Regions from separate parts of the Homo sapiens genome. Here region 1 is linked to region 2. Evidence: fine-mapped expression QTL. A gene starts in region 2. The other region holds a variant in brackets. All regions are shown on one strand. Distances are between the middles of the regions.

What was found. PIP is the estimated chance that this variant, and not a neighbour inherited with it, causes the effect.
Region 1: its variant is fine-mapped to the expression of KRT73-AS1 in whole blood (TOPMed, PIP above 0.99).

Annotation. Positions count from the first base shown.
Region 1 is chr12:52,633,099-52,638,352 of GRCh38, forward strand. It overlaps the pseudogene KRT128P. Among named protein-coding and RNA genes, the nearest start is that of KRT2, 16 kb to the right of the region's middle. The variant G/T (reference allele first, on the strand shown) is at 2,223.
Region 2 is chr12:52,607,737-52,613,180 of GRCh38, forward strand. It overlaps KRT73-AS1 (KRT73 antisense RNA 1), which reads left to right and starts at 2,115. Exons shown (of 3, transcript NR_126005.1): 1 at 2,115-3,691; 2 at 4,605-5,093. It overlaps KRT73 (keratin 73), which reads right to left. Exons shown (of 9, transcript NM_175068.3): 6 at 3,468-3,593; 7 at 2,879-3,099; 8 at 1,511-1,545; 9 at 1-716. The coding sequence ends at 460.

The DNA.
Region 1 (5,254 bases), 25 kb after region 2:
AGTGGCAAGTGCCTGTAATCCCAGCTACTCCGGAGGCTGAGGCAGGAGAATCTCTTGAATTGGGGAGGCAGGGGTTGCAGTGAGCCAAAATCGTGCCACTGCATTCTAGCCTGGGGGATATAGCAAGACTCTGTCTCAAAAAAAAAAAAAGAAGATTGTTATGTCTGCAGATAGTCCCTTTTCCCTGTATTTCTTACACCCCTGAATGCACATCCACAAGAAATAGATTCACAAAAAGAAAACAAACAGAAAGATATCCCAAGGATTCCTGGCTGGAGAGGCTAATTCTCTGCCATTGCACTTCTTTCAGACCGAGATCTGGGACCGAATACCAGCTGTCCTACCAACCTCAGGCTCACTCACTTCCTCTTGTATTTCTCCATCGAGTCCTGAGTGTTCTTGAGCTCTACTTCCTGCCTGGTTTTCTCTGCCATGACCTGGGCCACCTGCTTCCTGAGGTTGCTGATGTAGCCCTCGAAGATGAGCTCTGGGCTAGTGGTGCAGCAGTAGCTGCCATCTAGCTGCCATCCAGCTGCCATCCAGCTGCCACAGCAGCTCCCAGTTGGTTTGCAACACCTGGTTCTGCTGCTCCAGGAACTGTACCTGGAAATAGGAACTTGAAAGGCTCAGCCCCAGAGGACAGCCATAGAGGACTTCAGAAGTCCCTGCTGGCCTGGCAAGAGTGACAAGTGATTCCAGTGTGGCATTAATTCCCACAGGCTGTGACAGAAGTAGTTTAACCCTATTATTTGCTGAGGCTCAGACACAGTCTCCTGGGGGAGGCTTGGAGAACATGAAAAACAAAGTGTGCGCCTTTCACCAGGGCCAGTTTCTAGAGATAGGGACTAAAGTGGTTGGCCTCAGATAATCTGGACCTGCACTGTCCAATACCGTAGCCACAGGCTACATTTCCATCACGGCAAACAGGCCTTTTCCGAACGTCCCTCAAGTTATCCAGCTCCGGCTTTCTAACCTCCAAGCATGGGCACTCACTTTGTCAATGAAGAAGGAAAACTTGTTGAGTTTCTTGATCTGCTCCTGCTCCTACTACTTTACCTCCTAGACCTCAGTGTCAATCATCACATCCAGAGACTCCAACAAGCTTTGGTTTATCACAACTTCCTGGATGCCTCCAGGGCAGACCAGAGAACCTACAGACCCATGCTCCCCAAAACCACTGTCAAGACCAAAGCCCTCCTTGCTAGGCTTCCCACCCCAAACTGTCCACCTCCATAGCTCCTTTGTCTGCCTCCATGGTCCCGGCCTCCAGCCATGATGATGGAGATGCTCTTTCTCCCCGCAGGGCTAACGAGACTCCAGCTGCTATAACCGCCTGGCTCAGCATAGCCTTGGCTTCGTGCCCCTCTGTGCTGTTCCACAAGAGTGGCAGCCTCTGCCAAGGCTGTGCTGCTCGTCTCTGGCACCCTCCCAGCAGCATGACCCAGCCACTACCAAAGCCTGTGCTCTGGCACCTCAAGCATACACCTGCCTGCTCACAGTGACTCCAAGGCAGTGAGTGACATAGAGAGGTGGGAAGAAGGTGTCTCCATGTTTCCCTGCCAGAATGCTGAGGTGTCACCTTATACCTCTCCTGGAGCTGGCAGTGGGCCAAAGACAAATTCATGGGTTTGGCTACCCTGACACTAAAAGTGACAAAAAAATAAATACAGCCTTCTACTTGGGAACAGTCAGTCTAGTAACTATTGCTTAGTTAGCAGGGTTTTCTTATTATGGTCTACCTGTCAACTATCTGCTGACCTAGGCAATATGAGGTGTGTATGATTATGCCCAAAAAGCTATCAGGTCGGGTATTTTCTGAGATTGTTGCTATTTCAGCACTTTTAGTTTCTACCAGAGTGATATTAAAACCAGAGATACATCTTCCTAAAGCTTTAGGACAGAGACACTGATGAATTAGAAACTGATATCTGTAAAGGAAAGTGATTTAGAGACACATACTAAATGGAATTTTCTACAGTTGGTGAGAGTTACTTCCACCTCCCTACCAAAAATATACACAGTATCCTGTATATATTTTCCCAAAACAAGTGTCCAAAAAAGGGATTAGGAGTTAACTGTGTCCACCAATGAAATATTACATAACTAATAAAAATTACTGGGCTTATGCAAACCAAAAAATTCTGTTTTAATGTTAAGTGGGAAAAGGAAAAATCAAAATTGAATAATCAATATGACCACTAAATCCTAGGCACAGAAAAGAA[G/T]GCCTAGGATAAGACTGGAGGTATAGGATGAGCAGAGAAATATTGTTTAACTGACTAAAGCTAAATACTTTAGAAAAGCATGTTCAAAAAGAAAATACATCAAAGTGTTAACAGTAGTTGTTTTGTGTAGTGGTGAATTTTTTAAATTTTCTATATTTCTATTTTTCCAAGATTAAAATAATAAGCAGGTATAATTTTTACAACAGAAGCAATCAAGCCCCATAAGGCTTCAAACTCCTCTATGGGGAGGTGAAGCAGGTCTTCTTTTAGAAACTGTGATATATATATATATATTGGAATACTACTCAGCCACAAAAAGGAATGAATTGACAACATTTGCAGGATGGGACTGGAGACTACTATTCTAAGTGAAGTAACTCAGGAATGGAAAACCAAACATTGTATGTTCTCACTCAGAAGTGGGAGCTAAGCTGTGAGGATGCAAAGGCATAAGAATGACACACAGAATTTGGGGACCCAGGGGGAAAGGGTGTGAAGGGGGTGAGGGATAAAGGACTACAAATCAGGTTCAGTGTATACTGCTTGGGTGATGGGTGCACCAATATCTCACAAATAACCACTAAAGAACTTATTCGTGTAAGCAAATACCACCTGTTCCTCAAAAACCTATGGAAATAAATTTTTTTTTTTTTTTAACATTCAAGCAGGCCAAGAACATTGGGTCCTTCTTTCGGTCACTCCATAACTATTTGGCCAGCTGCCTGAGAGAATATTCTGGGCTCAGGATTCTCTTTGTATATGTTTTATCCAGGTCAGAGAAGTGCAGACTTACTCTTGTCTTGGGCCCCTCCTTCTCTTCTTTCCCCTGAGTCCGCATACCTGTAAAGTCACCTGTGAGATGACACGCGTGCCTGGCAGGGCCCAACAGCCCCTCTCAGCTAGTCTCCTTCTCTGGATCCAGGTGAGAAGCAGAGGTGTCTTCCCCATGCTATGATCCTGTACCCTTCCTGCTTAGCCAGGCCCTACCCTGCGGTCCCACCCACTGTCTGAGTGCCCCTAACCCGGCCACTGGGGAGAGAGTCAGGCAAAGGAAGAACACGTGGTAGGATATGTGGTGGAAATGATGTGAAATGCAAGAGCCATAGCCGTGGTTTCCAATGCCAGCTCTACCACTTCCTAGTTTTGTGATTGTGGACTTTTCAGCCTTAGCTTTGCTATCTGTCAAATGTGGTGATAATGACACCTGTCCTTGCTACATAACCAAGGTGTTATACAAACTGTTCGGGGTTGGCGGGGGTGGGGGGGCAGTGGAAATAAATGTTAGTTTTTACCACTGAAATTTTACAAAGATAAATGTTTAAGTCCACATCTTTTCCCAGCAGCAGCAACAGCAACAGCAACAGCACGGGTATCATGTATTGCCCGATTATTGTGTTTCACAACTGTAAGTGCTTTACAAAGATAATCTCCTTTAATCTCCACAACAGTACTATGAGGCAGCCACTGTTATTATCTTCATTTTTTTAGTAGTGAAAACTGAGGTTTAAAAGATGAAGCACTTTGCCCAAATGACGCAACTAGTTAAGAATTAGAAACAGGATTTGAACCAAGGCCAACTGATTCAAGAGCTCAATACAGAAATATTGAGTTGGGCCCATAAATGCTGAGGAGACATGAATTGGGACCCCTGCTTGGAGGTAGTGCACTTTGAGCAGGTTTCAGGGGAAGAGAGGAAGCAGGGAGAGGGCAGTCTTATCAGGGATGAGGTGGGAGCCTCACTAGCCCCACTAAAGAGAGTTGAGAAAGAGGTCTTAGCAGGGGTCACAGAAAACCAGAAGGGGGAGAGTGAGACCAAGGTGACAGGACAGGCCAAGGCTAACGAGATTAACTATGACAAAAGTGACAGGAGGAGGGTGGGTGCCCAGGCCGAGACAGAATATAATTGTACAGTCTCCACTATTTCTTTTCTCCTCCTTTTCAGGCAATTCTGGGATTCTAGTGAAAGTCATCACCTTCTTAAAAATTTCTGATAATTTTTCTTGAGTACTCTGCATATTTGACCCCAGATAAACTTCTGTCAAGGTCATGAACTTGAGAAAGTGTTCTTCTATCTCTTAGGAAATTTCCAGTCTAAATAGGCAAAGCAAAAGTCTGCTATAAGGAGTCCCCAAGCCCTCTCTCTGCTCCCAGCCTCCCCGTGCGTCCTGGAACCCTCTCCTGTGCACACTCCGGCCCCAGCTGTTTCAGCAGGCTGCTGGCTTCATTTTCCTTAAGACCCTGAACAGAAACCTGTGGTTGCTTCTAATGCTCTGCCACGATGGCTACTTGAAAAAAATAAATCTTTTTAGTTTTTGTAAAAGAAATACATGCTTTGTACAAAAACTCAAACAATAGAACACAGTATAAGAGCACAGTGTAAAAGTTCATTCTTTTCACACTTTGTCACTCTGTCTCGTCTCAGGGCTACTGCTAGCCTATAGAGTGCATTCGTGACTATTAGACAAAGATGTTCCTTCCTCCAGACAGATAAAAAAATATTTAATGAAATGGCAAGTTGAATCCAGCAATGTATAAAAAGGTTAATATTTGGGAGGCCGAGGCAGACAGATCACGAAATCAAGAGATCGAGACCATCCTGGCCAATATGATGAAACCTCTTCTCTAATAAAAATACAAAAATTAGCTGGGCATGGTGGCACATGCCTGTAGTCCCAGTTACTCAAGAAGCTGAAGTAAGAGAATCACTTGAACCTGGGAGGCGGAGGTTGCAGTGAGCCAAGATTGTGCCACTGTACTCCAGCATGACAACAGAGCAAGACTTCATCTCAAAAAAAATAAATAAATAATAATAATAATAATAATAATATAGCATGACCAAATGGAGTTTATTCCAGGAATACAAGATTAATTTAACATTTGAAAATTAATCAATGAAATTCACTATATTAACAGAATGAGGGAGAAAAGTTATATGATCATCTGAATGTTGAAAAGTATTTGAAAAAAATCAATGTTCACTCAAGATAAAAACACCCAGTACACTGGGAGTATAGGGAAACTTCCTGAACTTG
Region 2 (5,444 bases):
CAGGTGTTTTGCCTGAGCCAGTATTGCTCTAACATGAGAGAGTTCCTGCAGGTCTATCAGTAGATCTGAAAACTTGTGTACCCAGGGAGCACATGGCCAAATAGTTACTGAGACAGGGTATGAAAGAGCAGCACAGGCAGATTGGGGTTACCCTTGAGAGACAGCCTTCCTCTGCACAGGGACATGCAGGCAGAGAAAAGGCCAAGTCTTCTTCCAGAAGGGGAGGCTGAGTTAAAAGGCCTCTTTGGATGGAGGCAGAAAGATGGGCTCCAGCTCTCAAATCCTGATTCAACATTAACAAAGACTGAGGCAGAGAGGTCAAGGAGAAGGAGGAGAGGTCCACAGCAAAGCAAAGCAAGAAGGAGATGAGGACAAATGAGACAGAGGAATTTCCTAGAAGAGTCCGGAGCAGTCTGCCAGGGCAAGGCAGACTACTGGGAAATGGGCTGTGTTGCACTTTTATCTCATGGTTTTTTTGGTGGGTGAGCTTAGAGCTAAGGTCTTTCCCTGGGAGTCCCTGAATTCACTTGCACTCCCCAGCCTGGTCCTGGCTTCCCCACGGGGGCTACAGTTCCCACTGCCAGTGACACAGCCCCCAGGCAGCATGCTGTAGCCCCCGCTGACAGAGCTGGGCCAGTAGCCGTAGGTGCCAGCATTGCTGAATCCAAAGCCAGCCCCTGTGCCTGCCATCCCGGCCATGGAGCTGTTGATGACCGCTGCAGAGGAGGGAGGGACGAGTGATCAGTGTATATCCCAGGACAGAGGTGGCCTTAAGTCCCCCTCCAACCTCCCAGCCCCACTAGCTTAAATACCTCCTTCTTAAGCAAACACTTCCCATCAACCATGAACTTGGGTTCATTTGAGCAACTCAAGCGCGGGAAGAATAGCCCCAGTCCTGCAAGACTCCCAAGTCAGTCACCTTGTCATTCTATGAACAAACAGGAGTAGCAAGGGCTTTCCCCAGGGGACAGATGATGCTTGAGCATCAGATAAGCCAGCAGGTTCTTGCATTTAGCTTTACAATACCTTCTGAGTATTTTTCAAAAGAATTTCCTGATTGTTAAAATTAGGGAGTTTCTGCTGGTCCCACTATAAGAAAGAGACTGCCAAACCCTGTGGGGCCAGCATTAAACTGGCTTGCACAGTGGTCCACACACCAGTCTCCACTCCCATTGAGGAGGCACCACTCTGTGCTCAGTTTCCTTCATGCAGGAGAGCCGGTGTGGGGGTGACAGAAGAGGGGAGGGGCTGAGAGTTTCACCACAGCAGGCAGGAGATTGCTATGAAAGAGGCTAGTGTGCAGTATCAGAATGTCCTGGGCACTAGCTCCACCTGGAAGAAGTAGCTCTGAATGGGGAGGCCGCAGGTCTCAGCAAGGAAGGTGAGTATGTGACCAAGTGGTCAACAGGCAGAGCCAAGCTCTTCCTCAGGGGGCTGGGCGGTGGACACCCACCCACTTTGTGTTTGTTGATGGACTAAAAGTATTCCCTCAGAGTCATGAAATACTCACAAATGCTCACGGAGTTGGTATATTCTCCGGACATCCTGCAAGAGAGAAAAGCACAGGAGAGTCTGAATCACGTGGACTCCCATAGTGGCCCTCACTGCCTAAACACAGGCTGGGGATCCCCAGCCAGACCAGCTCAGCCTTCACGCACCCCACACTTGCCAGATGGCACTGGCTGCCCTTGCATGTCTCTAAGCCCTCCCTCTCGCTCCTCAATCTACTCTTCCCACTGCAGAGATGTGGAACCTGCAACTTTGGAACCCCCAACAACATTACCACCCCCAAGGTCCCTCCTGCAGGGTTTCTCTTGAACCCATTTCTTTACTACTGTGAGCAGCTGTCTGAATAAATACATATGTGGAAAGATCAGGATCAGGAGTTGCTACTAATGAACGAACTGTATGATTTTGGGGCAAGTGACTTCTCTCCAGGTCTCAGTTATAAAATGGTGCTTGGTTAGAACAGGGTTTTTCAAATGTTCATGCTTCGTGTGCCACCCTTCTGACTGTTGCTAGGACCATGTTTGACTTGTACTGTTAGATATTTAGTATTTTTAATTGACTCTGCCTTTTACGACAAAAGTGCATTTCTTTTAAAAAGAAGTTTTTTATCACCAGGGTAAATAGAAACCAGTATTATTACCTAACCAAATAAGAAAAAAAGTAGCAGTAAAAATAAATATAATGAAAAGAAAACAATTTAAAACTTTTGGGCTAAATAATGCTATTATTTTCCCAGAGATGCTGCACCTGAGATCTACTGTCTCTTTATCAATAGGGGATATTTGTAAGTGTCTGAGAGGTGTTTTTGTGTTTTGTCTGTTTGTTTGTTTGTTTGTTTGTTTGTTTTTGAGATGGAGTCTCATTCTGTCACCCAAGCTGGAGGACAGTAGCAGGATCTCAGCTCACTGCAACCTCAGCCTCCTGGGTTCAAGCGATTCTCCTGACTCAGCCTCCCAAGTAGCTAAGATTACAGGCATGCACCACCACATCCAGCTAACTTTTGTATTTTTAGTAGAGACGAGGTTTCTCCAATGTTGGCCAGGCTGGTCTCAAACTCCTGACCTCAGGTGATCCACCCGCCTCAGCCTCCCAAAGTGCTGGGATTACAGGCACGAACCACTGCGCCTGGCCATCTGAGAGGTGTTAAAGACACAACAGCACCCAGCTAAGACTTTCTCCAAAGAGTCAAAAGAGAACTGTAAAGGAAATTGCTGTCACATTATCTGGCAGGATGCTGTTTGAAACTATGCTTGTGGGTGAAGTAAACACATCGCCAGCTCGCCGCCCCCTCCCCCCCGCCCCCAACCACACTCTGGGAAACTTTAAGGTGGAGACTTGCAGTTTCTTCCAGTCCCTCGGTCCCACCCACCTGCACTCCTCGCCCTCCAGCAGCTTGCGGTAGGTGGCGATCTCAATATCCAGGGACAGCTTCACGCTCAAAAGCTCTTGGTACTCGCGCAGCATCCGTGCCAGCTCCTCCTTGGCCTGCTGCAGGGCGCCCTCCAGCTCATCCAGCTTGGCCCTGGCATCCTTGAGGGCACAGTCCCCCCGCTGCTCGGCGTCAGCGATGGCCGTCTCCAGGTTGGCACACTGGGGTCAGGAGGTAGCATTTCTCCCTGAGTTCCTCCCTGGGCCTCGCTTCACCTCTCCCATGCTCTCAATGGTTGAGCCCTCCTCTGTCCTGCCCCATGTCCTGGAGCAGAGACCCAGCCACATCCAGGTGGAGTCCTGTCAACCTGAGACTGAGAGGCTTGCTACGCTGGGCCCCACAGCTTTATGAAAATAATCTGCAATTGTTCCAAACTTCAGATGGGAGCTAAGGGTGAGGGATGAGAGCAGGACCTCCATTTGAAGAAGGGGATTCTGAAATGGATGCTCAAGAGAAGGAGGGGGCAGGGGGTGCTAAGCAGTTCACCCCTCCCTTAGGAGTGAGTAAGGAAGGCTCCAGTCCCCTTCACCTGCTTCTTCACACTCTCAATCTCCGAGCGCAGTCTTTGGATGAGACGGGTCAGCTCTGAGATCTCATTTTTGGTGTGTTTCAGGTCATCCCCATGCCGGCCGGCTGCTAGCTGCAGCTCCTGGAACTAGAGGAAAAGGAACCAAAGCAAGAACACTGACTCAGGGCTTGGCTGGGATCAGCCTGGTACAGAGACTGTGCCTGCACTTGCAGAGCCTGGCAGAGGTGGGTCCAGGTCCCCCGCCTCACCATGTCTATCAGCAGCCTCCCATTAAAGCATTGGGCCATTGCATTTGCTTGCCTTAAGCACAGCTGATCTCATGGATGGTTAGAATTGGCCATAAGGACTGTTGAATGTCCCAGACTCTCCATATGGCAACTTTATAACACACTACTCCAATTATGACGTTCCTCTGCCTATCGTCCTTCAAAGTCAAGGTCAAATTCAAACTCTTACATGGCATCCAGGGGCTCATTTCTTTCTGCCCTTGCCTAACACCTATCTGACTCCCAAGCTCGGCCAAACAGTCCCACACTTCCCCCAGATGTCCCACGTGTTCTTTTGTCTCTGAGTCTTTGCCTGAGCCTCTCCTCTGACCTGAAAAACCCTCCCCCATCCATCCTCCTTTTTCCCTAGCTAGCTCCAACTTAACCAGTGCAGAGTCCCTTCCTCCATGAGGCCTTCCGTGATGCCCTGGTTGGGTGCAATTCTATTCCGTTGCCACTGGCACACCAGTCCATAGGTCTCCCCACACTGTAGTGTATTGTGAACCTGTTTCCATGTGTTCTCCATCCGACCCAGAATGAATGGATGACAGAGACTTTTTCTTTTAACTTTGAATTCCCAGTACCTAGCATAGTGCCTAGTTGGTGCTCAAAAAAAGTCTGATGAATGAATGAGTGAGCCAATGAGCTGTCCATCTGTATTTTCTGTGACTCCCTCCCTTTGATACCTTAGCTGGGCCCCAGCCCACAGGCAGCTTTCCAGGGCTGGGATGGAGGGAGGGATTAGCATGGAGGAACATTTTGTGTGCATGATGGGGGTGGATTCAGCTATACCCCAAAACCACTAGCCATGAATTTTAGGTCATCTACTAATTCGGGATTATTTCTGTCTTTGTTGTCATCTATTAAACAGTCACAGAGAGTACATCAGTTCTACTCAGAATGTGGCTCAAGGGGAAAACAAAACAGGGACCCTTCAGCACTCTGGTGTACTGCTCTGTCTCTGTCACTGGGTGCTCCACCCCAGCATGGCCCAAGATTTAGGATTGTTCCTAAAGATGTCAAGTTATCCAGAAAGCAGAGAAGGCAGAAGGGCTTCTCTCTTCACTCCTTGTATTTTATCTTTGGTGCCAACCCTAAACAAGGGGCCTTCTCCTGCTTCTCCGCAAGGCTGTGTGAGCAGGATGCCTCCCCGTACACTGGTTCTGACACCAAGCAGCTTCATTCTGAGGCAAACAGATGAACATCTTCCTGCCACTCCTCTGTCAAGCCACACAAAGCCCTTAGAGTAAATGCTTCTTTCCCAGAGTCACCTTCTGATTTTCTGCCTAAATGCAGTGGAATTTGAAGTCAGTCACCTAGATTCTGATCCAGCTGCGTCACTTGTCAGCTATTGCCTTTGGTAAGTAGCTTGAACTCCCTGGGCCCTACGTTCTTTATCTTTAAAAAGGAATCATCAAAATAAGCAATAATAATACTGTTATGATTCTGGGCATTCCTGACCCTAGCTTGCAACACTAATGTGGAAGGCTTTGGGGACTGAAGAGTTGAGTTTGAACCTTTACCAAGAAGCCCTAGCCTATGTCTCCTAGACCTTGAAAGCCTCTCTCCTCCACCACTGCAGGCTAGCAAGGAGGCAGGGAGAGGGATGAGATAAGATCTCCCAAGAGTGTGGATTCCCTTGAGAAAGAGCCTGATAAACAGCAAGGAACAATCAGGAAGTTGCCATCTTGATCTGAGAAACCAAATTATC